7 linked regions of the Homo sapiens genome follow. The protein of the gene in region 2 purifies or fractionates together with the protein of the main gene of each other region. This does not show direct contact. Each region holds a gene or a part of one and is shown on either strand. Other genes may lie near its edges.

Evidence for each region.
Region 1: the proteins of ANKRD22 (region 2) and PKP2 purify together in Homo sapiens (co-immunoprecipitation; one large-scale study listed by IntAct). This does not show direct contact.
Region 3: the proteins of ANKRD22 (region 2) and LAPTM4B purify together in Homo sapiens (co-immunoprecipitation; 2 studies listed by BioGRID and IntAct, with this or other methods). This does not show direct contact.
Region 4: the proteins of ANKRD22 (region 2) and ITPR3 purify together in Homo sapiens (co-immunoprecipitation; one large-scale study listed by IntAct). This does not show direct contact.
Region 5: the proteins of ANKRD22 (region 2) and UBE4B purify together in Homo sapiens (co-immunoprecipitation; one large-scale study listed by IntAct). This does not show direct contact.
Region 6: the proteins of ANKRD22 (region 2) and PSME4 purify together in Homo sapiens (co-immunoprecipitation; one large-scale study listed by IntAct). This does not show direct contact.
Region 7: the proteins of ANKRD22 (region 2) and ESYT1 purify together in Homo sapiens (co-immunoprecipitation; 2 studies listed by BioGRID and IntAct, with this or other methods). This does not show direct contact.

Annotation. Positions count from the first base shown.
Region 1 is NC_000012.12:32,886,155-32,890,522, forward strand, and holds part of PKP2 (plakophilin-2), read right to left. Parts: intron 1-4,368. UniProt on the Homo sapiens protein: A component of desmosome cell-cell junctions which are required for positive regulation of cellular adhesion.
Region 2 is NC_000010.11:88,823,724-88,828,091, forward strand, and holds part of ANKRD22 (ankyrin repeat domain-containing protein 22), read right to left. Parts: intron 2,393-4,368; coding exon 2,315-2,392; intron 1-2,314.
Region 3 is NC_000008.11:97,799,594-97,803,961, reverse strand, and holds part of LAPTM4B (lysosomal-associated transmembrane protein 4B), read right to left. Parts: intron 1-4,368. UniProt on the Homo sapiens protein: Required for optimal lysosomal function. Blocks EGF-stimulated EGFR intraluminal sorting and degradation.
Region 4 is NC_000006.12:33,682,954-33,687,321, reverse strand, and holds part of ITPR3 (inositol 1,4,5-trisphosphate-gated calcium channel ITPR3), read right to left. Parts: intron 4,116-4,368; coding exon 3,925-4,115; intron 3,303-3,924; coding exon 3,154-3,302; intron 2,966-3,153; coding exon 2,857-2,965; intron 2,725-2,856; coding exon 2,634-2,724; intron 2,549-2,633; coding exon 2,379-2,548; intron 1,964-2,378; coding exon 1,789-1,963; intron 1,680-1,788; coding exon 1,495-1,679; intron 1,270-1,494; coding exon 1,069-1,269; intron 914-1,068; coding exon 803-913; intron 314-802; coding exon 218-313; intron 97-217; coding exon 1-96.
Region 5 is NC_000001.11:10,098,558-10,102,925, forward strand, and holds part of UBE4B (ubiquitin conjugation factor E4 B), read left to right. Parts: intron 1-34; exon of another isoform or gene 35-111; intron 112-2,550; coding exon 2,551-2,638; exon of another isoform or gene 2,639-2,649; coding exon of another isoform or gene 2,650-2,667; intron 2,668-4,368. UniProt on the Homo sapiens protein: Ubiquitin-protein ligase that probably functions as an E3 ligase in conjunction with specific E1 and E2 ligases. May also function as an E4 ligase mediating the assembly of polyubiquitin chains on substrates ubiquitinated by another E3 ubiquitin ligase.
Region 6 is NC_000002.12:53,922,011-53,926,378, reverse strand, and holds part of PSME4 (proteasome activator complex subunit 4), read left to right. Parts: intron 1-355; coding exon 356-420; intron 421-689; coding exon 690-840; intron 841-2,959; coding exon 2,960-3,058; intron 3,059-3,260; coding exon 3,261-3,330; intron 3,331-3,794; coding exon 3,795-3,862; intron 3,863-4,368. UniProt on the Homo sapiens protein: Associated component of the proteasome that specifically recognizes acetylated histones and promotes ATP- and ubiquitin-independent degradation of core histones during spermatogenesis and DNA damage response.
Region 7 is NC_000012.12:56,137,678-56,141,999, reverse strand, and holds part of ESYT1 (extended synaptotagmin-1), read right to left. Parts: intron 4,169-4,322; coding exon 4,086-4,168; intron 3,975-4,085; coding exon 3,926-3,974; intron 3,818-3,925; coding exon 3,728-3,817; intron 3,597-3,727; coding exon 3,501-3,596; intron 3,233-3,500; coding exon 3,161-3,232; intron 3,074-3,160; coding exon 2,987-3,073; intron 1-2,986. UniProt on the Homo sapiens protein: Binds calcium (via the C2 domains) and translocates to sites of contact between the endoplasmic reticulum and the cell membrane in response to increased cytosolic calcium levels.

The sequences.
Region 1 (4,368 bases), on a different chromosome or scaffold from region 2:
GTGTGGATTCACGATGGTCTTTTAGAAGGAAAGAGCCTGAAAGTCTAAAAGCTTATCATCTTACTGTTATTTGGTCTTTCTACAGTAATCTCTGGCTTGCAACAGCTCTCGTTCTCCACAAATCTTAAAAGATTTAACTTCTCCCATTACAGTAAAGTTGAGGACATGTTATTCCAGGTAAGACATGGGATCTTGCCACTTATTCAGAGGAATTTGTATAGCAATTCATATTTGAATGGATCCTTAAAGTCATTTACTAGCAATAGTAGGAGCTTAAAAGAAAGCAGAAAATATACTGAGACTCATCAAAGACCATACGTATGTCCGCACTCCTGAGTTGGTGAAGGAATTTTTTTTGTTTTTTGTCTGTCTGTGTTGGCATAAAACATACGATTCATTTCCTTGGACTTACATATTTTTTAAAACTATATTTTATCTTCTATTCTTACTTTCCAAGAAGAACAACCAGATATTGATGGAAATCACAACAGCCCAAGTAAGCATTTGCTTAGGCTGGAAAATAAGTAGAATTTGTTGGTTTAGAAAACTATAGTTGGCTGGGCAGGGTGGCTCACACTAGCAATCCTAGCACTTGGGGAGGCTGAGGTGGGTGGATCACTCGAGTCCAAGAGTTTGAGACCAGCCTGGGCAATATAGTGAGATCTCGTCTCTACAAAATTTTAAAAATTTAAAAATTAGCTGGGCATGGTGGCATGGGCCTGTAGTCCCAGCTACTTGGGAAGCTGAGGTGGGTGGATTGCTTGAGCCCTGGAGACAGAAGTTGCAGTTAGCTGAGGTTGGGCCACTGCACTCCAGGCTGGGTGACAGAAAGCAAGACTCTGTCTCAAAAAGGAAAAAAAAAAAGGGAACACTATGGTGAAAAATTGTTTCAAAGCAGATGAAAGTCTAATAAAGTTTTATACTATTGAAAATTTAACCAATAGTTGTACAGTGCTATATTTTGTGACCAGTTAGCTCACATAATCAACCATGAGAAACAACTTGGTGTATCAGGTATATGCTAGAAAGTACTGGCTATGAGTTCTTAAAACGTTGAATATGCCAGGGACAGAACAGCTCTCCTGCAAGAGTGGGCCACACATACCACATGCCAGTGTGCGACTGACTAATCCATTGCTGTTATCACTCACACGATATACCAGCCACTAGAGTCCTTATTTTTCAGGAGCCCCCTAAGCAATTCAAGAGCTATCTTCTGATATACCAATTTATGACATTTGGGGGGCAATCCTCAAATCACTGCTCTAGGTAATGACAAAAACACATTTTAAATGTCCCCCTCCCACTTTTTTTATTGAGATGGAGTCTTGCTCTGTCGCCCAGGCTGAAGTGCAGCGGTGCGATCTTGGCTCACTGAAACCTCTTCCTCTCAGGATCAAGCGATTCTTGTGCCTCAGCCTTCCGAGTAGCTGGACTACAGGTGTGTGCCACCATGCTGACTAATTTTTGTATTTTTAGTAGAGATGGGGTTTTGCCATGTTGGCCAGGCTGGCCTCAAACTCCTGGCCTCAAGAGTTCTACCCGCCTCGGGCTCCCAAAGTGCCAGCGCTTTAGGCGTGAGCCATTAAATGGCCCTTTTATATCACAGGTGTTCATGTCATATTTTGTTTGAGGTATTAGAATATGTAATTGTAGAATTTGTTATTATAAACTGGTAATTTAGCATCCTGGTGAAGTATTAAATAGAAATATCCTGGAAGTATCTAAATCTGTTCATTTCTCAGCCAGGCACGGTGGCTCATGCCTGTAATCCCAGCACTTTGGGAGGTCAAGGTGGGCAGATCACTTGAGTCCAGGAATTTGAGACCAGCCTGGGCAAAAAGGCAAAACCCCATCTGTACAAAAAAAATACAAAAATTAGCTGGGTGTGGTGGCGTACACCTGTAGTCCCAACTACTCAGGAGGCTGAGGTGAGAGAATGGCTTGAGCCCGGGGGGCAGAGGTTGCAGTGAGCCAAGATGCACTCCAGCCTGGGCAACAGAGACAGACGCTGTCTCATGAATGAATGAATGAATACACTGTTCATTTCTGTAACTGTGTCTTTACTTTGGCATTCCTGCCAATTATTTGCTGAGATATCTCATGAGACTTTAAGACTTGTAAGACTTTATAACTTCCATGGCAAATATCACATTATACTCCCAATAATATAAAAAAAGGTGAATTTATAGAACTCACAAATTATTTTTTGCTTTAAAATACTTACTACAGGTTTTCTTTGTAATGACTTTCAAGTCATTATATTTCCCCTGCCTCTCACGTGCCAGGGTTAACCCCTCCCAACTGATTCATAACTGCTAACCCAACTTTTCTTTTTCTTTTTTTTTTTTTGAGACAGATTTTCACTCTTGTTGCCCAGGCTGGAGTGCAATGGCACGATCTCGGCTCACCGCAACCTCCACTTCCCGGGTTCAAGTGATTCTCCTGCCTCAGCCTCCCAAGTAGCTGGGATTACAGGCATGCGCCACCACGCCCAGCTTATTTTTTCTGTACTTTTAGTAGAGACAGGGTTTCTCCATGTTGATCAGGCTAGTCTCAAACTCCCGACCTCAGATGATCCACCCGCCTCAGCCTCCCAAAGTGCTGGGATTACAGGCGTGAGCCACTGCGCCCGGCCTCTTTTTTTTTTTTTTTTGAGACAGGGTCACTCTGTTGCCCAGGCTGGCGTGCAGTGGTGCATTCAGAGCTCACTGCAGCCTTGAACTCCTGGCCTCAGGCGATTCTCCTGTCTCGGCCTCTCAAAGTGCTGGGATTACAGGAAAGAGCCACCATGCTAGGTCTGTTCCTACTTTAAATCCACCAAATCTGTCAAATGTATTTTCACAAAACTCCTGCACTTTTCATGTTTCTTCCCTGTGGAAATATCTGTGACTCACAATTATCAAATTCTTTAACTTGCATTCAAGATCAGAGGAGAGGGGTGAAGGAGGCTGCCTATAAGGGACACAACTGAACTAAGTTAACTGGGCAAGAGAAGGAAGGGAGGGAGACAAGGAGGGGTAGAAATACCAAGCAAGATAAACTGCCTGTGTGTGTTTGGTGGGGAGCAAGGGTAGTGGCCCCAGGGATGAAGTTTGAGAAGTTGCAGGCATTAGATCACGAAGAACTTGGAATGCTGTGTTCAATAATTTTACTCTTGCAGATAACAGTAAGAAACTGAAGGAATTTAAACTGGGAAATGATGCAATGAGATTTTAGAAAGTTCACTCTAGCAGCTGTGTGGAGAATGGATTGGAGTGGGGCCACGTTAAAACAAAGAGGTTATTTTCTCTTCCAAAGAGATTTTGACAGAAAGAACTGTATCTTACACTACCACTTCTAGCACAGTCTTGTATCAGTACTTGACAAGTTAATTGTTGATTAGTCAGATTACCTGTACATTAGAAATATCCTAGTTACACAAATTCAGTTTGCGCTTAATCATTCAGGCAGGTATGTATTCTGTGGCTCACCAGAATGGAACTAAAATGTGAGTATGATAGTCACATACATGCTTTTGTCTTGGGGTAGATGGAAGGTGCTCAAATAGTTTCGACTGTTCTCTGTCATTCTGGGTATACGGAGAGGAAGGAAAGTTGCTTCCCCAGAATGTAGGCAGACTTTTATTAGAAAAGCAGACTTTGGGCCAGGTGCAGTGGCTCATGCCTGTAATCCCAGCACTTTGGGAGGCCGAGGCGGGTGGATCGGTCAGGAGATCGAGACCATCCTGGCTAACATGGTGAAACTCCATCTCTACTAAAAATACAAAAATTAGCCGGGTGTGGTGGCACACACCTGTAATCCCACTTACTTGAGAGGCTGAGGCAGGAGAATCGCTTGAACCCGAGGAGACGGAGGTTGCAGTGAGCCGAGATTGTGCCACCGCACTCCAGCCTGGGCATAGAGCGAGACTCCATCTCAAAAAAAAAAAAAAAAAAAAAAAGAAAAGCTGACTTTGTTCATTTTGGCAAGGTTGTTTCTATATTTGAATAATATATGTTTACTATCATTCTTTTATCTGTATGGCTTGTGTATTTATCTGTAATATTTTGGTGGCCTATAAATTCATATTATCTGTCAAGAAAAGTTCCCATTTGTTTTCATTCTTCAATGAAAAAGAGTAATCAAGATCCAATAAGCTTGATGCTCACCCACACCCACCCCATAAATAGCTTACTGAGAGATTCAGAAAAAATAATCCATTAAGCTTCTAATGAAGGTTTTCATCCACAAATTCTGGAAATCAAGGAATTGCAGAACTTTGATTATGACTGCTTAGGTTAACGAATGTTATTAAGTCTAAAGCTGATTATTCCAAGAATATAAATATGTGAATTATTTTAATAGTAATGGCAGGTTGTGTTTTCA
Region 2 (4,368 bases):
AGGCTGAGGCAGGAGAATGGCTCGAACCCGGGAGGCGGAGCTTGCAGTGAGCCGAGATTGCGCCACTGCGCTCCAGCCTGGGCGACAGAGCGAGACTCCGTCTCAAAAAAAAAAAAAAAAAAATTTCTTCTCTGTCTCAATGTATATGTATGTTAGTGTCATATAAGCCATCAATCTCTGCCTTTTTGTTTTCCATTTTCTGTTCTAAAGAATGCAACTTAAAAAAGCTGATGCTGAATTGTGCCAAAGTTTCTTTGTCGCATGCTATATGCCTCGGTGATCATCACCTTGATCATGTCACCATCTTTCCCTTAAAGAGTCTCCACATGGCCCTTTACATAAACATTATCCTCTATGGTTTTGGTGATGATTCCTACTGAAGAAGTCGGGTGCTCTTGCTGCAGGACACCTGCAAGATCAGTGCAGTTCTACAGAGACATTTCCCAAACGTGATTTGTTATAGCTTATATTATGTGTTATAAGCTAGTGCATCTACTCTGTTGGTACTAATTTAAAACACTACAGGTCAAAAAAATTATAGCTAGGGCATTAGTGTCCAAAATTTGGCCTTTGGAAAAGTAGCCAAGCAACCATGGTGCTGGTGAGTGAAGAAATAGTACCTTTGGCTATCAAGACAGGTTTAGCTCTGGATCCCATTCCCTAGAAACACCTCTAAAATTATAGGAGATCATGTTGCAATTATTTATTTTTATTAAGTGGTGGCATGACAAATGGAAGTTCTGGCTCTGAATTTTGTCATGTGAAATAGAGTCTAATTATCCAAAAATACAAAACACTGTCTTACCTAGAAAGTAGATTTTAATACTCAGATAGTTTTTGAAAAAATTTTGGTATTAGAAGTGGTGTCTGTGTGTGTACCTGCATGTGTCTCAAACTCCTGAGTTCAAGGGATCCTCCCATCTCAGCCTTCCAAGTAGCTGGGACTACAGGCTAGTGTCACTGTGCCTAGCTGAAGGAATGCAATATCTCTATCTAGAGAGAGAAATACACATAAATTGCTGAGAAAATATCCTAGAGAAATTTTGGTCACAGGCAGGAATATTAAATCTATTGAATTTAAATGAAAAGACCAAGAAAAACCTTCAACAAACTTTTAACTTCATCTTTAATAATCTCTTACTTAATATATTTCAAAGCTATCTAAAGAAATGGTAATGCACAGTAACTGTCAATACAAATTTATCCAAAAGTTCTATTTGAAATAAAAGGGAATATAAATTTCATAAAGTTATTTTCTTTTGCTCTCTCTCTCTCTCTCTCTCTCTCTCACACACACACACACACACACACACACACACAACTGCCTGCATTTAAACATGATACCAGCATAGGCAAAACCGAAATGATGTAAATAATTGATAGAAACAGGAATGGGGCCATGGTCTCTATCATAAAACAATGGTAATACACACAGATGTGCACACACGTAAAATATGTTAGGCATCACAAATAGAATGTTAGTATTTTGGAATCAAATTTCCACTTGCCTACTTTTTCAATAAGGAACTGGGAATCCAAAATTTTATTCAATCACCATAAGCAAAACACCATAGAAATAAACTTTTGTCTTTCTGTGATCATTGAGAAAGAAAGATGAGTGCAAGAGCACAGAGGTGAAAGTGAAAACAACACCTTATGCTCATAAACAGGAAGAAGTGAGCGGATGCTGCTACTGTTGTTATCACTGCTCTTACCATCAGTGGGATTTTTCTTTGACCTTTGTCTTATTTATCTGTAGTTTGCACACGGGGCCTCTCATCAGTGGGTTGGGATTTTGGCTGCAGTGGCAGCTGTTGCCATTCAATGAGCACTTACTACATTCTGAGCATGTGCTAAGTGCTTTACATGAACAAGCCCAATGAGATAAGTATTATCCATATCCCCATTTTACCGATGAGGACACTGAAAGTAAAATAAGTTTACAACTTGCTCAAACTCATAGAAGTAAAAAGTGGCAAGCCCAGAGTTTACTCATGGGCATTCTCACTCCAGCTTCTTAACTATTATGGCTGGTATTTTGTTATCGGAGCCTTAGTTTTCCTTAACGTCTCAACAACATTAAAGCCAATTATTTTAAAAATGCTTTATAATCAATAGAGGTATTATTCCCATGAGTTCAGCAGAATATAAATAACCTCAAGGTTGCCTGTCAGTGGGAAAAAAAAGGAGAAAATAAAAGAAAACTAAATGTAAAATTGTCTAGGAAAATAAAGCAACTGTACAGATGACAAATACGCTACCTACAAATACCATTTTGAATATTTTTTCAAAATGGCTAAAAGTATAAACTTACACAATCTGTAGCATTAACTTCGACGCCAGCATCAAGTAGCATTCGTACAAGAGCCTCATTCTGCTTTGTCTTTGATACCTATTACAAATGGTAATTATAAGAAAGGCTTATTTACAAATAGTTTCTCCAATTTATGCCTGAGACTATTTAATCAATAGGCTTCATTTTAATCCCAACACTCCTATGCATGCATGCACCCTTCCTAAAATTTCCCCCAGCTTCTCACTCACTCTAATATCAATTAATTAAAGCCAGGTTCTCAGACTGTGGTCCTGAAGTAGCGGCACTGACACCTAAGAACCTTAGAAATGTACTTCTCAGGTCCCACCCCAAACCTACCTAATTCCACTGAGGATGGGGCCTAGTACCTGTCTTTCCCTTCCTGGCTCAAAGCTGTGCAATTACTTCCCATTGCTCTGAGGACAAAAGTAAACTCTTCAGCATGACCTACAAAGCCCCGTATGTTTTGGCTCCACGTATGGCCCTGCCCTGGCCTCTCTCTCACTCTGCGCCTCCTGGCTCACTCTGTTCTACTTACATTGGCCTTTGTTAATCTTTCATTCTCAGAGAATCATTGCACAGGAAGTTCCTTCTGCCTAGAAGCCTCCTCCCTCTCTTCTTTGCCTGGCATATTCACCTTTCATTCATCAGCCCAAGTCCCTCTTTCTCTAAGAAGCTTTCCCTGACCCACCTGACCAGGTGAAATCCCTCTTTTTTAGCTATCCTAACACCAGTCGCCTTTCTGTATCACCCGCTTTATGGTAATTTTACATGTGTTTGTGCCATTTGATTAATGACTCTCCCCACCACCCTCTAACTCTCATGGGGTAAAAAACTATGCCTATTTTGTTCATCATTGTGTCCCTAACAGCTAGCACAGCGTCTGGCACATAGTAGGTCCATAATAAACATACGTTAAAGAATTGAACAAATTAATGAAATGAACTAGGACTCCTCAGAAATTCACTTTTCCTTCCCAGTCTCCTGAGCTTCTGACCACAAGCCTGTTGGAGTCTTCCCCAACTTCCAGTCTCCTGAAGAGGCAAAGCTCTCCCTGCTCAGCTGGGTATAGCCCTGGAGTTCAACCCTGTCATCACCTGGGAAGCTCCATCCAGTTCTCTCTCCTTAGGCTTCCCTCTTGTGTCACCTCCTAAACTGCCTTTCTCTGCCTACTTTTCTCTGAAATAACCCAATGCTTTCCTCTCTCCTCCCCTATCATTTCCTCTCATGTCACTTATTTGTTAATTCATCACAAATTTACAACTTTAGGCCCCATTAATAAATTGCACGTGCATGAAACTAGAGTTGAGCTATTCATTACGATTACTATTTTTGCCCAGTCCTCCAGCCTCTAAACATTGAACCATCTTAGAAAGCAGAGTTGTGTGTCAATAAATTCTGAATGAGCCTTCTAATCACAGTTGTAATTTTTACCTTTAGAATCTCTAAAAATGTTTGTAAATAAATAACAGATTCTCCCTGCCCCCAAAATACATGTATTTAAATGCTATGTGCTAAATACATAATGAATTTTTAAAGAATTCTTCGAGGATATGAGCAGATTATATTTTTATTAGTGAATTAAAGTTCTTTTCTCTCTCCTATAAATCCAAATATAAAAATCAACATTGTCATGTTTAATTATAGTTCCTCAAATTCTGTGGCATTTAAATACCCAATGAAATAATAACATTTTTGACGGGCAGACTTGTTCTGCGGCTGATGTTAACAGGTGTAACCAATATTCACAGTTTATGAGCTACAACAAGGAGGGAGCTTGGTCATTTAATTAAAGTAAATTATGCATCTCTTGAGTCATGTCTGAGAAGTGGAACTGGGCACAAAGGAAACTAGATGGATAAAAGTGAGTAAGTCAGTGCAGATCTGTTACCCTATTGGGAAAAAAAACCAAAAACCATCTCAAGCTTCATCTTCTACTCCTCATATGACTGCATCTCTATACCAACTACATCTTTCTTTATTCAAGAAAATTGCTGTCTGCCAAGATTCATCCAAGCATGAAGAAATTCATCAAGGTGAAAATGGGCTTAAAT
Region 3 (4,368 bases), on a different chromosome or scaffold from region 2:
ACCACAAAAATCATATTTGGGTTGAACACAGTGGCTCATGTCTGTAATCCCAGCACTTTGGGAGGCTGAGGTGGGAAGATCAGTTGAGCCCAGGAGTTCAAGACAAGCCTGGGCAACACAGTGAGACCCCATCTCAACAAACAAGAAAATGAGCCAGGCACAGTGGTGCATGCCTGTAGTCCCAGCTACTCAGGAGGCTGAGGTGGGAGGATCGCCTGAGCCCAGGAGTTTGAGGCTACAGTGAGCTGATGCGCCACTGCACTCCAACCTGAGCAACATAGTAAGACCTTCCCTCAAAACCAAATAAACAAAAATCCACATACTTGGAAATACCTGTTTAAAGGAAGTGTAAATGTTTTACAGAACATCCATTCAAGAGTTTATTTTTGGCCCGGCACGGTGGCTCACACCTGTAATCCCACCACTTTGGGAAGCCAAGGTGGGTGGATTACTTGAGATTAGGAGTTCGAGACCAGCCTGGCCAACATGGTGAAACCCTATTTCTTAAAATGCAAATTAGTTGGGCATGGTGGTGGATGCCTGTAATCCCAGCTATTCAGGAGGCTGAGGCAGGAGAATCACTTCAACCAGGGAGGCAGAGGTTCCAGTGAGCTGAGATCGTGCCACTGCCCTCCAGCCTGGGTGAAAGAGTGAGACCCTGTCTCAGGGGAAGAAAAAAAAAAGTTCATTTTTAAATGACAATCCCAATTGGTTATTTCAGGATTATTGTAGGATTCGAAGTAACTTTTTTTCTTTTTTTTTTGAGACGGAGTCTCACTCTGTCACCCAGGCTGGAGTGTAGTGGCACGATCTCGGCTCACTACAACCTCCACCTGCCAGGTTCAAGCGATTCTCCTGCCTCAGCCTCTCGAGTAGCTGGGGTTACAAGTGCCTGCCACCACACCCGGCTAATTTTTGTATTTTTAGTAGAGATGGGGTTTCACCGTCTTGGTCAGGCTGGTCTTGAACTCCTGATCTCGTGATCCACCCGCCTCGGCCTCCCAAAGTGCTAGGATTATAGGCGTGAGGCACCGTGCCTGGCCGGAATAACTTTTTTTCTTCCTGTATTTTCCAAATTGTCAAATAAAAGCTGATTGCTTTTCGAAAAAAATTGTAATAATGAGAAGAGCCACTTCCCAGAGTATACATATACATATAACTAATTTAAACAGATACTACAAGCATGTGTTTAACCAAACACCTGAACTGTACAAAGAATATATAGTGAAAAGTTACCTTCTCCGTCAAAGGCATCTGAACCAAAGCGACTCCATTATGAACAGGGGCTTGGTAAAATGTGGCTAAGACCCACTGGGCTGCACTTCCAGGAGGTTAGGCCTTCTAAGTCACAGGATGAGATAGGAGGTCGGTGCAAGGTACAGGTCGCAAAGACCATGCCGATAAAACAGGTGATGGTAAAGACGCCGGCCAAAACCCATCAAAACCAAGATGGTGACAAAAGTGAGCTCTGGCTGTCCTTATTTCTCATTATGCACTAGTTATAATACATTAGCATGCATGCTAAAAGACACTCCCACCAGCGCCATGACAATTTACAAATGCCATGGCAACGTCAGGTAGTTACCCTATATGGCCTGAAATGGGGAGGAACTCTCATTTCCGGGAATTGCCCACCCCTTTCCTGGAAAACTCATGAATAATCCACCCCTTGTTTAGCATATAATGAATAAATAATTATAGTATTATCAGTCGAGCAGTCCAAGCTACTGCTCTGCCTATGGAGTAACCATTCTTTTGTTTCTTTACTTAATAAACTTACACTCACTTTACTCTATGGACTCAATCTGAATTATTTCTTGCACGAGGTCCAAGAACCCTCTCTTGGGGTCTGGATCCCCTTTCCAGTGACATCTCCACAGTAATTATTATAACAGTATCTTGTTTCTCTCCAAAGATCCAAGAAATTTCATAGCACATTTTAAACAGTGTGATTAACAAAACTATCTGAAGAAAACTTTCTGTTACAACTCCAAGGCTTAAAGGAGCCACAGGCCAGTCCCACAACTGGCATTAAGATTTATGGCAAAGATGTTATTTGATAAACTGTCAAGTTTTCTTGGCATTTCAATCCCTCTATACTTTTTTTTTTTTTTTTTTGAGATGGAGTTTCGCACTGTCGCCCAGGCTGGAGTGCAGTGGCGCAAGCTCGGCTCACCGCAACCTCCACCACCCAGGTTCAAGTGATTCTCCCGCCTCAGTAGGAGCCTGTAGCTGCGATTACAGACACCTGCCACCACACCTGGCTAATTTTTTGTATTTTTATTAGAGACAGCGTTTCACCATATTAGCCAGGCTGGTCTCAAGTGATCCGCCTGCCTCAGACTCCCAAAGTGCTGGGATTACAGGTGTGAGCCACTGCACCCAACTCTTCTATACTCTTATTTTTGAGAAAAGGTATGTGGAAAATTGTGGACTGAAATAGGATCAAACGAAATAAGAAGAATGTGCTTTGAAAAATTATGAAGAGCTGGGCATGGTGGCCTGTAATCCTAGCACTTTAGGAGGCCGAGGCAGATGGATCACCTGAGGTCAGGAGTTTGAGACCAGTTTGGCCAACGTGGTGAAACCCCATCTCTGCTAAAAATAGAAAAATTAGCTGGACATGTTAGTGTGTGCCTGTAATCCCAGCTGCTCCGGAGGCCAAGGCAGGAGAATCGCTTGAACCCAGTGGGGGGCGGAGATGGCAGTGAGCTGAGATGGCACCATTGCACTCCAGCCTGGGCAACAAGAGCGAAACTCCATCTCAAAAAAAAAAAAAAAAGTATGAAGAACCACACAAGGGCAATGTACTCCATTATTGTTATCATAACAGGGTAGGGTTTTAAAGCTGAAATGAAAAAACATAAATTTGGGATTCATGGGCAAAAAGCTTTAGAGGAGGGAGCAGAGGTAAGGAGCTGGTCAGAGAAGATGGAAAGGTGAGGAAGTCGTACAGTGTGAGTCTGGGGTCCCGTAGGGCTACTTATGGAGTCTTGTTTTGTTTTTTTTAATTAGAGATGGGGTGTGTCACTATGTTGCCCAGACTGGTCTTGAACTCTCAGGCTCAAGTGATCCTCCTGCCCCGGCCTCCCGAAGTCCTGGGATTAAATGCGCGAGCCACCACCTGACTTTGTATTTTATTCTAAGTGTAACAAGAAGTCAACGGGGCTGGGCACAGTGGCTCATGCCTGTAATCCTAGCACTTTGGGAGGCCAAGGCGGGCAGATCACCATAAGTCAGGAGTTTAAGATGAGCCTGACCAACATGAAGAAACCCCGTCTCCACTAAAAATACAAAATTAGCCGGGCATGGTGGTGCATGCCTGTAATCCCAGCTACTCCGGAAGCTGAGGCAGGAGAATTGCTTGAACCCGGGAGGCGGAGGTTACCGTGAGCCGAGATTGCATCGTTGCACTCTAGCCTGGGCAACAAAAGCGAAAACTCCATCTCCAAAAAAAAAAAAAAAAAAAAAAAAAAAGAGGTCAAGGGGTAATATTACAGAAGGGAAGAATGTCATCTGGCCAGAGTTCAAATGAGTGAATATACATAAAATACCTAGACCGGTGACTGGCATACAATAGCCACTCAAATTAGTTATCTTACCTCTTCACATCTTAACAAGAACCATGTTAAAAGCTCTTGGTTACTAGTTTTCTAGATCTTCTAAAGCCAGTGTTAAGACACCTGCTTTACGCCTGTGCTTTCCCCGCACTCTCAGTCCCTAGGGACCTGTCAACTCTTAATCCGCTTATTATTCCCCCGTGGAGTCTACTGATCATATATAGCTACTAATTGCCTACAACACATATTTGCTAAGTGCTTAGGAAGAACTCCCTAGGACTCAGAACATGAAGTTAAATACATCATGTACCCAAAAAACAAAAAGCATAAAGCAATGAATGTGACAAGAGCTCCGAGAAAGAATCATGGAAGTTAAGGAGAGTTACAGTCAGGGGTTGCAGGGACCTGCAACAGAGATGGGAGCATTTGAACAGGAACTCAAAAGATGAAGATTTGGAGCCTGAGAGGTGTGGAAAAGAACAATTCCAAGTATGAGCAATGCCACTGAGACAAGGACATCTCCTCAAGACAGCAAGTTCAATGTGGCTGGAACGCCAGGGTCAGGGGGTATAAAAGGAAATGTTAGAGGATAGAACCAAAAATGTAGGATGGGGCCAGGTGGTGAAGAGGCCTCGAAACTAGGACAGGAATTCTAATAGTTAATGAAAATGCCATAAAGGTTTTGAGGAAGGATATGACATGATCAGAGCTATGTTGTTAGAAAGAACAAACTGGCAGAAGTGGGAAGGCTAAATTAGAGGCAGGAATCCAATCTGGTGTCAAATAAAAATTATAGGCGGCCATTGTT
Region 4 (4,368 bases), on a different chromosome or scaffold from region 2:
CGCCAGGATATAGATGTTATGGCCCACTTCACGTGGGCTCACCTCCGAGTTCTCACGCTCTTCCTCCTGCAGGTAGGCCTTCTTGATGACGTCCACCTGGAGGGGCAGTGCCTGTTCCAATGCTCTCTTCCTAGGGCGGTAGGGCCAGCCGGGCCCTCATCCCCATCCCAACACACTCCACCTGGTTCCGCCCGCCTGCCCACCTGCCCAGCCTCACCAGCTCCTGGGGCCGCAGGCTGATGAGGATTCGCTCAGCATTTTCACTGTCATGCCGGCTCTCCATCAGAGCCAGGAGCAGCTTGGAGGCATTGTCCTGGGTGGAGGGGCAGAGGGAGGCAGGCCACAGTCTCAGGACACCATGCCCCTGACAACTTCTCCCTCATTCCTCTCCATAACAGCTCTCCCATCCAACAAAAGGTCAGGTGCCATGACCTTCCCATCCTCCCTCCCCCCGGCTTAATGAGAAGCATCCTGCACAGCCAGCCCACCCATAGGCTTGCCTTCACCCCCGCTGTGGCAAACACTCAGCTACCCAGACAGCAGACACACACATAGCAAGTCCTCAGCTAAACCAGAATATATTTGCATCCAGAGTGAGTGTATGTTCCAGCATGCTTAAACATGCGTATATTACACACACACCCTGCACACACCACACACTTGTGCATCCAGATGATGCCCCATCACACAATGCTAACACCCACATTACACACCACTATGTACACTTGACACACAAGTCACACATACATGCATGCACATCACATGCACACCCAGCACTCACACACCTGCCACTGGGCCCCACCTTGAGCTGCAGCACCAGATCCATGCGGTACTTGCACAGGGGGCTGATGTCATTGAGGATCAGTGCGGTGATGATGTCTATGCCATTGGACTCGTGAGTCACAATGCAAGTCTGGCAGGAGGCAGTGGGGGACACAGGGCCCAGGCCCTCTCAGAATAGTGGCAGCTCCAGAGACCTCAGCCTCTCTCCCTGCCCCAGCTGGCTCCATCTACCCACATGTCCACACTGCCACCCTGGCTGCCACTTATGCCACCAGGACAGCTCACCTGGTTCTCATGGCAGGGGCCCTGGCAGTACTCAGTGAGGGTCTCCAAGGTCTGGATGACGAGGCCCACGTTGTCCTCATTGATGTAGAGCCCCAGCAGCCCCAGGCCGCCCGTGGTGCTGCCGCACATGATGTCCAGGAACTGCAGCGTCTCGCATACCAAGTTGTAGTTGGTTTTGTTGTTCTGACAGCGCAGGAAGTTCTGCGGGGCACAGAAGGGTTGGGCACAGCACAGCTACAGCACGGAGAGGGAGGCTGGCCTGGGAAGCACGATCTTGTGTGCTGCAGGGGTAGGGGAACCACCAGCCACAAAGCAGCAGTGCCCAGGGCAGGGCACACCTGCCATAGAGGGACACCAGCCACACTGCCTAGTCTGCATGCCGGCTGGCCAGCGGGGGAAGGGGCAGGTGTGTGGCGAGGCACTCACCTGCAGGTCCCGGTTGTGGTTCTCACACAGCAGCTGCAGAAAGCGCAGGATGGGCTGCATGATGAGCACGGATGTGCCCATCTCACTGCTCTGCACACGTTCGCTCACCTCGTGCCCCCGGCGCAGGCTGGGGCCCAGCGAGTAGCGGGATGAGGAGCCAGGTATCGAGAAGGAGGCCACGCGGCCTGTGGGCGAGACCTGGTGAGGCTGGAGCTGCCCACCCCCTTGGCCACCCCCCTGCACATCTTATCCTGGGATCCCCGTCACGCCGTGCCTCTGCCTCAGACCCCTGACCTTTGGTGGTGGGGTCGACTGGCTCGCGGTCCTCATGTGGCTGGCTGCCCAGGTCATTCATGTTGACTGCCACCGTGGACTTGGTCTCCTGCTGGGCCCGCTTCATGCGGTCGTGCAGCACCTTGAAGAAGCGCTCTGACTTCTTGTCACTCATCATCAGGTTGTGGAAGGATTTCTGGAGGTGGACAGTGGCCAGGGAACAACCTCAGCACTGGGCCCTGCTCCTACTCAGGGCGTGGGGCAGGCACACCACACTGCTGGGGCCGCTGGGGCTGCAGGGGCCTGGCTGCAGGCCTGGGTGCTGGTGGCTAGCATCCATGGCCACCCATGGGCGGCTCCATGCCCCATATCTGCTCCTGTGTCACGTGGTCCTTTCATCACCCCCGCATACCCCTCTGCCCCAGCCAGGCCTGAGCCCGTCTCCTCACCACCCTGCCCCCATCATGCCCACTCTTCTCACCTCTCAGCCACTGCTCAGGCCTCTCCTCTTTCACACCCTCCTCGGCCTTCAGTGCCCAACTCAAGGCCCACCTCCTCCAAAAAGGGAGGGAGGCAAAGGAGGGCATGTCCAGGCCCCAGGCCCCCCACACCTGGATCTCTGTGTTGCCACCATCCAGCAGGTGGATGGCCAGGCCGATGCTCTCCTGGAAGATCTTCTCGTTCTTGGTGCTGGTGATGAGGTCGCATACCAACTTGGTGGCCCCCTCCTTGTCCAGCCGGCACTGGGTGGCTGCGATTGCCGACCAGTCTGGGTCCAGGCCTGGAGGCGGGACTCGGTTGAGGGAGAGCTGGTGTGACAGGAGAGTGGAAGGGAGGGCCCGGGGGCAGGGGAAGGTGATACTGACCAGTGCCTATGGGGTCGGGAAGGTCCCCCCGCGAGGTGGACTTCCGGTTCTGGAGGTAGTTTTGCAGCAGCATCTTGCGCAGCTGGTTGCCCTGGGGGAGGATGGGAGTGAGGCCCCATTGTGGGTACAGCCCACCACTGACCACTGGCCTGACGGGCTTGACCCTGAGCCCCTGGGTACTCCTGACTGGCCCACCCAGCACTTGCCCCACCAGGGCACTCACCCGGTCCCCGTACTTGGTCTTCTTGAGCAGCATCTGCTGCAGGGTCCGCAGCACCTTGATGCACAGCTTCTCCTCCGACTCCATGAGGTCCTTGGTGTGCTGGATCAGCCTGAGCCGGCCAAGGAGGCAGCTCAGGGCAGCCCCACACTGCCTCCCTCCAGCTACTTCCCCACCCCATCCCAGGCAGGAACACCCCCAGGCCCTCTGACCCAGTGAGCCTGTCTAGTCCCCACCGGGCCCTTCTCTGTCCCCTGCCGCTGCACCCCTGCTGCCCCCATGCCCCAGTGTCTCGCTCACTTGGACAGGAAGCCCCCACTCTCGCAGCGCTGGTAGGCCTCACTGCCCTCCAGGAAGAGCAGCTCAGGCCAGTGCAGGACATCCACCAGCACGGACAGCTCAGCCTGTACCAGGGGCTTCAGCCGCTCCTCCAGGGCTGTGATGATGTCCTGGGGTGGGCAGGGCAGAGTCATTGCCAGGCCCAAGAAATGACCCGGGTGTGACTGCCATTCCTCCGACCCAAACGCCAAACAGCCCCACAGATTGCCCTGCCTCTGTCTGAGGGGCCCACACCCACAGAGACACCCTGAACACAGCGTGATGTCTGTCTGCTCAGAGCCCTGGCTGGGAGCTGCCAAGCCTGGCTTCTCTCCCAGCTCTGTGTGACCTTGGGCAAACCCCTTAGCCTCTCTGAGCCTCAGTCTCCTGCCACGTGGGGAAAATAATCCACCACACCCCCTCTACAGGCCAACGAGACAGCGCACAGAAATGTGCTGCATAGACAGGAGGGCGCTGCAGGAGTGAGGGGTGGTCCCGACCCCCTCATGAGCTCCAACCCCACTAGCAGGCCTCTGGGTTCTCCAGGCTTCCTCTGGAAGGAGGTTCCCCAGTCCCTTGCTGCTGGGTCGGCCCTTAGCAGCCCCAGAGTGTAGAGAAGCCAACCAGCCCCTTCCTGGAAGTGTGGGCAGGACAGGAAGAAACACTCCCCGAGAACTTGCCCCTCCAAAGTAGGGGAGCTGCTGACTCAACCAAGCAGCTCCCGAGGCAGATGCCAGGCAGCCCCACACCCACCTGCAGCTTCTCAATGATGTTCTTGTAGTCCCACTGGTTGGCGGTGGGGGTGACGCGGGGGAAGGCCCGCGTGGTTGCCTTGTAGCTGGAGGCGTTCCGCTGGGCGGCAGCTGCACAGCTGGCTCCACTGCTGAGCATCGAGCTGATGTGGGCATCCAGGTCCATGGGCAGCAAGATGGCCCGGCCCTTGGCTGGGTGGGAAGGGAGGGAGTGCTGGAGTGCTGGTGCGGGGGCAGTTCAGCCAGCCAGAGGCCAGGCTCAGGGCTGCCACACCAGGAGACAGAGTGAACTAGACCAAGGGTCTGGGAGACAGAGACCCCCCCCACCCCGGCCTATGCTTGAGGGACTGAGAGGCTTTCTTCCCCTTGTTGGGTAAAAGGAGTTTCTGCCTCTTTGATTCCCCCCGGCTCTACCCTGACTTCCCCTTCCTCTCTCTCACCTGTC
Region 5 (4,368 bases), on a different chromosome or scaffold from region 2:
GTTCCTCCTCCGTCCCTCTCTTCTCTTGCTCCAGTGACCTTGGAGGCTGTGTATTGCAGATGGCATAGATTAAAGATGGAGTAAGGATGCTTCACTCTCATCAGACTTTGTGTAAGCAAGAACTAAATCCTTACAGTGTTAAGCCTCTTAAGATTTCAGAGTGTATGTGTTACTACAGTATAGCCTGTCTTACTCTAACTAATATAAAGGGCATCTACCAAAAAACTACAGCAACTCTCCTATTCAGTGGTGAGAAGTTAGCATCATTTTCTGTAAAATCAGCAATAAGAACAAGGATGACTGCTATTTCTTCTTGTATTTAGCAGTGCAGTAAAACAAGTAAGGATTGGAATGGAAGAAACAACAGTAATAATTTGCAGATAAATTATTTACATGTTGGCTGGGCACAGTGGCTCACACCTGTAATCCCAGCACTTTTGGGAGGCCGAAGCAGACAGATCACTTGAGGTCAGGAGTTCGAGACAAGCCTAGCCAACATGGTAAAACCCTGTTTCCACTAAAAATACAAAAAAAATTAGCCGGGCATGGTGGTGCGTGCCTGTAATCCCAGTTATTTGGGAGGCTGAGGCAGGAGAATTGCTTGAACCTGGGAGGCAGGGGTTGCAGTGAGCCAAGATTGCACCACTGCACTACAGCCTGGGTGACAGAGCAAGACTCTGTCTAAAAAAGAAAAAATTATTTACATGTAAACTTTCTATGTATAAATAAATAAGTTGCTTATAAGAAGTGTATATTTAAAATCAGTTGCATTCCTGTCTGCCAGCAACAAAAAGTTAGAAAACGTAATTTTTAAAAAGGTGCCATTCACAATTTCATTAAAAAGTATTAACATATGGTACCTAGGAATAAATTTAGCAAAAGAAGTATAAAATTTTTATAGAGAAAATTACTAAAGCTTATTGATAGACCTTAAAGAAGATCTTAATACTTGGAGAGTAATGAAAACTCAGTAATATATTACTTCTCCCCAAGTTGATCTCTAAGAGTGAAAAAAATTTTGGTCAAAATCCCGGGAGGGTTTTTAAGGAATTCCTCAGGCTGATTCCTAAGTATGTGTAGAAGAGGAAAGAGCCAAGGATAGCAAAACCTCTTAAAGGAGAAGAATAAAGTGGAGACATTGACCTAGCAGATATCAAGATTTGTGAAGTTTTAGTAATTAAGACAAAGTGGTATTGGCCAGGGACAGACAAATTGTCTAACAGAACAGTAATGAGTCTCCAGAAATAGACCCACTCGTTAATGAAAATTGGACACGTGACATAGGAGCTTTCATATTAATGTAAAAAGGATGATCTTTCCAGTAAATGGTGCTAGGGCAATTGTTCAATCGGGGATAAATGATATGTACTTAACCAGTTTTTATAATAAGACTTCAGTTGAGTTTTTTATTTTCTTAATTAAATTTTTTATTTTTATTTTTTATTTTTTTGAGATGGAGTCTCGCTCTGTCGCCCAGGCTGGAGTGCAGTGGCGCAGTCTTGGCTCACTGCGAGCTCTGCCTCCCGGGTTCAGGCCATTCTCCCGCCTCGGCCTCCTGAGTAGCTGGGCCTACAGGTGCCCACCACCATGCCCGGCTAATTTTTTGTATTTTTTAGTAGAGACGGGTTTCACCATGTTAGCCAGGATGGTCTCGATTTCCTGACCTTGTGATCCGCCCACCTCGGCCTCCCAAAGTGCTGGGATTACAGGTGTGAGCCATCGTGCCTGGCCTATTTTCTCAATTAAATTTTTAAAAATGTTTATTTAATTTTTTTTAGAGCCAGAGTCTTGCTATGCTGCCCAGGCTGGGATACAGTGGTTATTCACAGGCACAGTAATAGTGCATACAGCCTCAAACTTCTGGGCTAAAGTGATCCTCCAGCTTCAGCCTCCTAGGTAGCTCGGACCATAGGCGCATGCCAATATACCTGGCCTGGTTGAATTTTATGTCATTTTAAAATACTATATATAGGTAACCTACTTTAATGATATACTTTTATTTATTTATTTATTTGAGACGGAGTTTCGCTCTTGTTGCCCAGGCTGGAGTGCAATGGTGCGATCTCGGCTTACCGCAACCTCTGTGTCCTGAGTTCAAGTGATTCTGCTGCATCAGCCTGCCGAGTAGCTGGGATTACAGGCATGTGCCACCACGCCTGACTAATTTTATATTTTTAGTAGAGATGGGGTTTCTCCATGTTGGTCAGGCTGATCTCGAACTCCTGACCTCAGGTGATCCACCTGCCTTGGCCTCCCAAAGTGCTGGGATTACAGGCGTGAGCCACTGCACTCGGCCAATGATATACTTTTAAAAAGTAAGCCCAAGAAAATGACAACTTAGGAAAAATATTTCCAACATGTATAAGAGACAAATTGTTTAGATCCTAATTTATGAAGAACTCTTAAAAATTAATAAGAAAAAAGATGGACCATTATCATTTTCCTTTCCTGATTAACTGATATTTTAAAACATTTTCTCACCCAGCAGCTACAGTGACATTGTGCGGATTTATAAAAGGTAAAAGGCTTGTTTGTCTTTTGTACTTTAAGCATGTCCCAGGTGGATGTGGATTCAGGAATTGAAAACATGGAGGTTGATGAAAATGATCGAAGAGAAAAGCGGAGCCTCAGTGATAAGGTTGGTAAGCGATGAAGCCCTTGGTACAGGTAATAGAAATAAACACATTTCATGTCTTGTATCTGTAGAGTCTGTTAGATTGGGGCCACCCGAAATCAGGAAGTCCTAGGCAGGTGATTATTTTTATTCTTTTGAGGAAAAATGAATAACCTAGATTACCCTTATTCATGAAAGTGTAACTCAGTCCTTTGATCTGATAATATCCATCTGTTTTTGGTTCAGGGCCATGATTTTATCAGTAAATTTAGGTTGTAATAGGAACTAATTTAGAGCAAATTAGAATTCTTTCTGTTGGTCTTTTGCTTTTTTTTTTTTTTTTTTTTTTTTTTTTGAGACAGAGTCTCGCTCTGTCGCCCAGGCTGGAGTGCAGTGGTGCGATCTCGGCTCACTGCAAGCTCCGCCTCCCAGGTTCACACCATTCTCCTGCCTCAGCTTCCCAAGTAGCTGGGACTACAGGCGCCCGCCACCACGCCCAGCTAATTTTTTGTATTTTTAGTAGAGATGGGTTTTCACCGTGTTAGCCAGGATGGTCTTGATCTATTGACCTTATGATCCACCTGCCTTGGCTTCCCAAAGTGTGGGATTACAGGCGTGAGCCACTGCGCCTGGCCTGGTCTTTTGCTTTTAAGCAAGTAGATCATCACATCTTTAGCAGTATTCTGAGGAAAATGACTGGGAATTGAAGCAAGAATATGTAGAATCTAGTCGCAAGTAGAAGGTTTTGGAAAACATGAAGCCTTTATATTTGAATATCACCTGAGCTTAGTGCTCTGCATTTAGGGTGTGTGTGTGTGTGTGTGTGTGTGTATTAATATAGATAATTACATCACTTTCTGTTTAGTAAATTATTAGGAATCCTTTAGCAACACATGTTAATGATTATTGGAAGTTGCACTGTAAACAAAAATAAAGACAAACAAAGGAAAAAATAAGAAGTTGCACTGTAGCCTCCTAGTGGTGCAGTGCTTTATTTTGTATAGTTCTTTAATGTTTACAAAATTCTTTTTTATATGCTGTTTTATCTGTGGTGGTATGTAATGAGAAATGTTACAATTTTGAAAAATTCCTGGAGGAAAATTGGTCATGCACCTGGAGTGTTAACCTGGTCCTATGGAATTCAGAAAAGTAAATAGATAGGATATGTACATCCTCTGTCACATATTTTTCCTTGGTGACTTTTGATAATGACTTTGCTCTTTTTTTTTTTTTTTTTTTTTTTTTTTTTTTTTTTTTGAGACAGGGCCTCACTCTGTTGCCCAGGCTGGAGTGCAATGGCGTGATCTTGGTTCACCACAACCTCCGCCTCCTGGGTTCAAGCGATTCTCCTGCCTCAGCCTCCCAAGTAGCTCCGAGTAGCCAGGCCCGCAACCGCGCCTGGCTAATTTTTGTATTTTTAGTAGAGACAGGGTTTCACCATGTTGGCCAGGCTGGTCTTGAGCTCCTGACCTCAGGTGATCCACTGGCCTCGGCCTTCCAGAATGCTGGGATTACAGGTGTGAGCCACCACGCCCGGCCATCTTTGCTCTTTTATGCTCCCCATAGATTGTATTGTAAGCTCATGAGACTTAGATGTTGTAACTTTGATGTTATAGGAATAGGCTTACTTTTCCCCTAATCAGTGGGTGAATGGTTTCATGCATTTTTAAAATATCATCACTAATAATGAATTAAATCAGAATAACGTATTCCTATTGAAACACCTAACTCATACCTCTTATTTGAAATTAACC
Region 6 (4,368 bases), on a different chromosome or scaffold from region 2:
AGTCGCGAGCATGTTATTGTTTATATTTTTCTGGACATTCAGGTAGTGAGAGACTAGACTTTGCAAAAATCAGCAGTTTGAAAACTGAATTTATAATAAAGATAGCTGCTTGACTTCTGTATTTGGCCCTTGTAAAATAACATTAATTTCTTCTTTCTTTGGTTCCTAGAAAGTAGTAGATGAAGTTGTTCTAAATTGAAAGTAGTAGATGAAGTCTAGCATGGTGCTGTTTCTCATAGTACCCAATATAATGGTTTAGTGTGGATACATTTGGCAGGCAATAATTGAGTTTTGTTAGTTCAGGAAAAAAAAACAAAGGCTATATGTAATCTTTCTCCATATTGGGATATTATAGGTGGAACGAGAACTTTGTTCAGCCACAGCTGAATTTGAGGATTTCGTCTTACAGTTTATGGACAGGTGAGCTTGTAACCCACACCAACGTTTAGCTGAAATTCTAGAAAATGACTCTTCTATCCCAGAAAGTTTAGTTTATTTCTGCATTATAACCTTTATTTAGCTACTACTGGTGCTCCTGAAGTTATAAAAGGATAATCGATTTGTGAACCACGTAGAAATTAAGTAGCTATCACTTGAATAATTAGGACAATAGAGAGTTACCTGATGACCACCAAAAATGTCAAACCAGATTTTAGTTGCTGAAATTATGCTTTGTTTGGATTATTTAGATGTTTTGGACTTATAGAAAGTAGCACATTGGAGCAAACAAGAGAAGAGACAGAAACTGAGAAAATGACACACTTGGAGAGTTTGGTCGAATTAGGTCTGTCTTCTACGTTTAGTACAATCCTCACCCAATGTTCCAAAGAAATATTTATGGTAAGAACATTGCTGCAAAAAATAAACTTCCAGCTTTTAAGTTTCATTTGATGTTTTAAAATTGACTTCAAGTTACTTTGTGTATATCATGCAGTTTATCATTTACATTCATACTAAAGTTTTAAAGAAATGTACAGTTGCTCATTATTTGCAAATTTCGTATTTGCAAATTTACCTGTTTGCTCTAACTATTTGCAACCTGAGAATCAAGCTTTTGCGACTGACAAAAATTCAGTTACTTAAATTTGATCTCACATATGCCATGTGTTCTCAGCTGAGAGCAAACGAGGCACTCTGCCGTCTTATATCCAGCTCCACTTAAACAACTGTCCCCTTTGCGATCTATTTAATGCCACTTTTTTACATTTTTTTGCTTCTTATTGGTGATTCTGCTGTTTAAAAATGTCAAAAATGGCTCCCAAGAGTTTATTGTTTAAAGTGGTTGAGGGTTCCTAAGCATAAGAGAGTTGTGCTGTGCCTAATGGAAAAAACACTGTGCTAGGTAAGCGTCAACAGGCATGAGTTATGTTGCTGTTGACTGCGGATTAAATGTTAGTGAATCAACAATATGTATTAAATAAGTTGTCTGTAAACAGAATCACACTTAGGATTATGTATTGATCAGTTGATGAAAATGTTGTCACCATAGGTTCACAGGAACATAATCCTGTATTTCCCCTGGGAGCAATGGTTCAGTATTTGCTAGTTCAGTGGTCACAGCAAATTTATAGAACATGACTACCATGAACAACAAGAAACAACTGTCGCAGGGGGGATAGCATTAGGAGAGATACCTAATGTAAGTGACGAGTTAATGGGTGCAGCACAGGAACATGGCACATGTATACATATGTAACAAACCTGCATGTTGTGCACATGTACCCTAGAACTTAAAGTATAATAAATAAAAAAAAGAAACAACTGTATTTTTTAATTTTACAATTAAAAACAGTTACTCAGCTGAGTTTTAGAAATTGCTTATGACATCACTCCCATGATAGAAATTAAATCCTAAGACTAACTGATGGATTAGAAGTAGTTATCTTCATAAGACATTCAGTAAGCATTCACTAATTCAATATTGGTTGGTACCTATTATTTGTAATGTGGTACCTATTATCTGTAGCCTTTAAGACTACACTTTATTTTCATTTCTGTTTCTTCTCCCATCATCTGTAATTATCACTGTTAAATATGTTAATCCTAGAAGCCAAACTGCCTTATAGCTGTGTGAAATAAATACTATGATTATGTTAGTATAAAGAAATGAACACAAATCATCTCTTATTTAACCAAAAAGAGTTGTTTATACTTTTCAGTATTGTTAACCCAGGTATAGAACTCATTCTTCCATTGAGCAAGTAAATTAAAGTTTTGTGACATGACTGTAAAATAAACAGACTGCTTCAGTTCTTTTAGGGTAAGGATAGATGTCTAGTTTGTAGTTGTCAGGATGACAAATTGTATTAGGTATTCCAAAAAATTCCCTTTGTTATATTCAATTAGCCAGAAAGACAATTAAATTGCATTTGCTTCCACCAGGTATAATTTTATGTGTAGGGTTTCTGTGGCAAGTGAAATCTTGTACCTCAATTTTTTTTTTTTTTTTTTTTTTTTTTTTTTTTGTTAACTCTGTCACCTGGGCTGGAGTGCAGTGTCGCGATCTCGGCTCACTGCAACCTCCACCTCCCGGGTTCAAGCAATTCGCATGCCTCAGCCTCCCGAGCAGCTGGGACTACAGGCATGCGCCACCATGCCTGGTCAATTTTTGCATTTTTAGTGGAGACAGGGTTTCGCCATGTTGGCCAGGCTGGTCTTGAGCTCCTGATGTCAAGTGATGCTCCTGCCTCAGCCTCCCAAAGTGCTAAAATTACAGGTGTGAGCCACCACATCCAGCCAGTACCTAAAATATTTTGTTCAAGTTAGGATCGTGGGCAAAGATTGTTCTTAGACCTGAATGTAACATCATTAAACAAATTCTTATAAAATCAGATGGTTAAAAATTGCCTATGGGCTTATTTTTGGAATTGTCTAAATATATTTATCATTTTCTTTTATGTTCTGTAAGATGTTTAATTTTCTTAAAAAATGCTCATTAAACATTTTCATATCTTAACAGGTGGCCCTTCAGAAGGTTTTTAATTTTTCTACTTCACATATATTTGAAACAAGAGTAGCAGGTCGCATGGTGGCAGACATGTGCCGCGCTGCTGTAAAGGTGAGTTTATTTTTTTGAACTGATGTATTAATGACTCAACAATCAACTAGTTTATATGGTTAATTATTAGAGGTGCTTCTATGCTTAAAATGCATAGTTCTTTCAGTAGCTGCTTATTTACAGCCTTTTACTGCCACTGAAAATATAATCTTGTATATATTTGCCTTTCAAAAAAGCCTTACTTATACAAATACATTTTCAGTGCTGCCCAGAAGAATCTTTGAAGCTCTTTGTTCCCCACTGCTGCAGTGTTATAACTCAGCTTACAATGAGTAAGTCATAAGGTCATTATTCTCTCTTTACAATTTTGGATAAGTTTTTTTCTTGGTTTCTAAAACTCTGTTAATGACAACAGATTCCTTTAGCTTCACAATATTTTGATTGGCAATTTGGGGAAAATTTGTCTCCAAAAAAGATATCATCCAGGTTGGCAGTAGCTTAAAAATGTTACTTTATTAATATTCTTATACAACCACCATTCAGAGGTTACCTTCAAAAATATCAGTTATTTTGTGAGATATAGAGGGGCAGAAGTCTTGGTTGGTGTGTTTATTTTCTTGAAAATTCTGTTTCTACCTCCTTTTGGAACAAGCTCAGCTTCATGAAGAAGAAATAAAAAGTCTTCCTAAAAGAGGTTTTCCTCAGCTATTGGAAATATTAAATAGAAGTATTTTAAAATGCTATATTTAGTTGAATGCATAGGTTTTTCCCCCTAATAGTATTTTGCTGTTTTTAGATGATGATGTATTAAATGATGAAGAGCTAGACAAGGAATTACTATGGAATCTTCAACTTTTGTCTGAGGTATTGTAAATCTTTGGAATAAGAAACATGACTGTGAAAACACTGACTTGCTTTTAGGATTTAGCTCTTTCTGACAAAATGACTTTAAAACATATGAAAAGTCAGAGTTTTGGAAATTTGATGAGGCTTCAGAAGATCAGAATATGTCATACTCTTATTGTCAAAGGAGTGGTGTAGTTGATCACTGCATGTTCAGCCATCTACTTAGTTTTACCAGTTAATTCTAATATGGGTAACTCATTAATTGAAAAAGTTGATCAGATTTGGGAATTTTTTTGGTCTACACTTTAAATTTGGCCATCAATCAAACTTCAGTTTTCTTTTCTTTTCTTTTCTTTTCTTTTTTCTTCTTTTTGTCTCACTATCGCCCACGCTGGAGTGCAGTGGTGCAATCTCGGCTCACTGCAAACTCCGCCTCCCAGCTTCACGCCATTCTCCTGCCTCAGCCTCCCAAGTAGCTGGGACTACAGGCATCCGCCACCACGCCCGGCTAATTTTTTGTATTT
Region 7 (4,322 bases), on a different chromosome or scaffold from region 2:
CAACCTCCTGAGTAGCTGGGATTACAGGCACCTGCCACCACGCCCAGCCAATTTTGTATTTTTAGTAGAGCTGGGGTTTCTCCATGTTGGTCAGGCTGGTCTCAAACTCCCAACCTCAGGTGATCCACCCACCTCAGCCTCCCAAATTGCTAGGATTACAGGTGTGAGCCACTGTGTCTGGCCTGTCCTTCCTTTCTTAACCAGAGTAGAGTGGACCATCTTTACCTCATAAACTTTCAGAAATTATTATTATTATTTTTGAGACGGAGTCTCGCTCTGTTGCCCAGGCTGGAGTGCAGTGGCGCAATCTCAGCTCACTGCAAGCTCCGCCTCCTGGGTTCACGCCATTCTCCTGCCTCAGCCTCCCAAGTAGCTGGGACTACAGGTGTCCGCCACCACACCCGGCTAATTTTTTGTATTTTTAATAGAGACAGGGTTTCACCGTGTTAGCCAGGATGGTCTCGATCTCCTGACCTTGTGATCTGCCCGCCTTGGCCTCCCAAAGTGCTGGGATTACAGGCGTGAGCCACCGCGCCCAACCTAGCTTTCAGAAATTATACCAGTAATACCTACAGCATACAGAAAACAACAGTAAAAACAGAACTAAAAGTAAATGTTTCTTGCCCATCCTACTCCTATTGCCATATTCCAAATGTAACAACCTTTAAAACCCTCCTGTTTTCTTTGTTCTCACGGAATTCTAATATGCTTGTATCTATTGATTCCCTGCTATAAAAGATGAAGAACTGAGCTCATTTGTACCTCCTTTCTACTCTGCTAGCATTAAGTTACATTATTTTAAATTCTATTAATTTCAGCCGGGCACAGTGGTTCACACCTGTAAGATGGCTCATGGCCATCTTTTGTCTCCTCACTCTCCACGCTGCCTAAGAGATCTCACCCATGACTACACTTATGAGTGGTTGCTTGCTCATGATGTTCCAATAAGAGGGCAAGGGAGGAACACCTCATGGACAATAGATTTGTTTTCTGCATGTCTTCTCTTGGATGTCCTGCAGAGATCTCAAATTCCAAAATTCCCTCTCTGTGCACTCCCTAAGTCAGCAACGGCACCCTTATCCATCTAGCCACCCTGTGCCAAAAACCCCAGAGTTAGTGTCTAGGCTGTTCCTTGCTCCTCCACCTGCTCCATATCACAGCAATCTTCAAATCCCATCAGGCTTTAGTCGTTTCCTGCTTTGACTGCTCTAACAGTCTCCTCACTGATCTCCCTGCCCCCAGTGTTGTCCCTCTCCAGTCCATTCTTTACCCTCTTATCCCTATGATCTTCCCAAAATGCAAATCTGGATATGTGACCTCTCATTAAAGGCTTCCCTGACTGGGTGTGGTGGCTGACGCCTGTAATTCCAGCACTTTGGGAGGCCGAGGCAGTGGATCACTTGAGGTCAGGACTTAGAGACCAGCCTGACCAACATGGTGAAACCCCGTCTCTCTTAAAAATACAAAAATTAGCTGGGCGTGGTGGCGGGCACCTATAATCCCATCTACTCGGGAGGCTGAGGCAGGAGAATCGATTGAACCCAGGAGGGAGGTTGCAGTGAGCTGAGATCGTATCACTGTACTCCAGCCTGGGCAACAGAGCAAGACTCTGTTTCAAAAAAATAATAAATAAAATAAACAAAGGCTTCCCTAAGCCTTAGGATAAAATCCATATTTCTAGCATACTATTCAACAGCTCCTATGATCTTGCTCTGCCTGCCTCTCTGATCTATAATAAATATGCCTTCTCTCTCCTCCATTTTTTTTCTCAGCCTAAAGAGTTTTCCTGCTCTTCTTTTCGTGGTCCGAAAGAACCAGTAAATCTACCCTTAGGCTGGGGCGCGGTTCTCACGCTTGTAATCCCAGCACTTTGGGATGCCGAGGCGGGCAGAATGCTTGAGTCCAGGAGTTCGAGACCAGCCTGGATGACATGGTAAAACCTCATCTCCACAAAAAAATACAAAAATTAGCTAGGTGTGGTAGTGTGCACCTGTTATCCCAGCTGAGGTAGGAGGATTGCTAGAGCCCAAGAGTTGAGGCTGTAGTGAGCCCTGATTGCACCACGGCACTCCAGCCTGGGCGACAGAGTAAGACCCTGTCTAAAAAAAAAAAGGCCGGGTGCAGTGGCTCACACCTATAATCCCAGCACTTTGGGAGGCTGAGGTGGATGGATAACCTGAGGTCAGGAGTTCAAGACCAGCCTGGCCAACATGGCAAAACCCCGTCTCTACTAAAAATTGGTGGGGTATGGTGGCACGCGCATGTAATCCCAGGTACGCGGGAGGCTGAGGCAGGAGAATCGCTTGAACCTGGAAGGCTGAGGTTGCAGTGAGCTGAGATTGCGCCACTGCACTCTAGCCTGGGCAATAAGAGTGAGACTCTAGTCTCAAAAAAAAAAAAAAAAAATCTACCCTCAAGCTCAGGGGTCATCTAAGGATGCCTTTCTATCTCCAGCCTTTCCCCAGCCTGAACCCTTCCTTTCTTCCCCACAGTGCCTTTTACCTCAGTTATCATTCTGAAAGTTTCATCTGGTTATTTTTCTCCCAAAACAGAGTGTGAGCTCCATAAAGATAAGAAGTCAATCTTTTGGCCGGGTGCGGTGGCTCACACCTGTATTTCCAGCACTTTGGGAGGCCGAGGTGGGCGGATCACCTGAGGTCAGGAGTTCGAGACCAGCCTGGCTAACATGGTGAAACTCCATCTCTACTAAAAAAAATGCAAAAATTAGCCAGGTGTGGTGGCGGGCACCTGTAGTCCCAGCTACTTGGGAGGCTGAGGCAGGAGAATGGTGTGAACCCAGGAGGCGGAGCTTGCAGTGAGCCAAGATAGCACCACTGCACTCCAGCCTGGGCGACAGAGCAAGACTCTGTCTCAAAAAAAAAAAAAAAAGTCAACCTTTTATCTCATCTCTGAATGCTCTGTGCCTGGTTTCCTGCCTGGCCATGGCAGAAATCTGCTAAATATTTGAAGAATGAATTTACAGTACCTGCAACTCTAGGCTCTCAGTGTGTGGTTTCCTGATGAGAAAGGAGGCACTCTCATCCCAGACAGGGGCTGAAGTTTGCGAAATAGTCTGGTGGAGATGAGGGCTTATGATCAGTAGCTGATACTCTTATTTCTCTTATCCCTCCCATTTTTACCCTGCAGCATTTCTTCATACCTTGGTTTTATGAGAACTATCTCCCACAGTGAGAGTAGCATAAGGGCTGAGGTGCTTGGTGCCTTTTCGCAGCTAGAAAGACAATACTGTGTTAGTCTTAAATTTGGACCTAGTTAGGCAGATCCCCCTCACAAATTATATCCACAGCCAGCAGCCATGTCTCCATTATTACTTGGCAGCCACTACCCGTGGCCTTGAACAGACAACTTTTCCCACCCCTGCACTACCCTCAGAAAGAGAGGGGCCATTTTTCTTATTCTAAATACTCCAGGACCATCCAAACCGGAGGAAGGTGGAAGAAGGGCCAGGAAGTTATGGGGCATGGGGAGCGGGATCTCACCGGGAGGTCCTCTGCCCGCTCCATATAGATGGATAGCAGGGCCGCAGCCAGCTCCGCACTCTTCTGAGTCTGGATCAAACTATTCACCTGCAGCACCTGTGGAGGGGCACACGGGGCTGGGGAGTGGTAACTGACACCTTGGGTTCTGGCATGTGCCTTGAACGCTAAGAGAAGAGCTCATCCTGCCCCACCTTGGGTCCCTTCCTTCCTCAAGTCTCCTGCCCTACCTCCTCTAACTCAGCAGCAGTGGGACGGGGGGTGAGACGCTCCAGGCGCAAGTGCAGGCGGCCAGATGGGACATCCTCCAGGGTCAGCCACTGTGGAAGTAGGCAGGGTGAAGACTTGGGGATATGCAGACAGGAGAACTTTGAGAATGAAGCTTGGGCAGGATCAGGAGGGGTTGTTGACTCTAATTCAATGCTCACCTCATCAAGGAAGCCACTGTTTAAGACTGTGGTGAGACGCACTTTACACCTGTTGAAGAGAAAGATTAAGACAAAAGCTAGATGGTGAGAACCAAGGAGGCCAGACTCCATGGCCTAAAGAGCCCCAGCCTGTTTTTCACGTAGACTCCTATGCTCTCACCTGCCCAGAAAATCATCCTTGTCCAAGTCCTTGTCAAAGACTTCAACCTCTAGCTCTTGGCCTGGAACTGATGTGACGATCACCTAGTGGGAGAAAATAGTGCAGATGAAAGATTCTCTCCTTTTCCTCTGCAAATGACTGGACCCCCCAGTCAACTGAACCTCAGAGGTTTCTGGACCACTTTTGGGATTGGGGGAAAAATGGGGCAGAACCAGGAGTCACAGCCACTCAATTCTG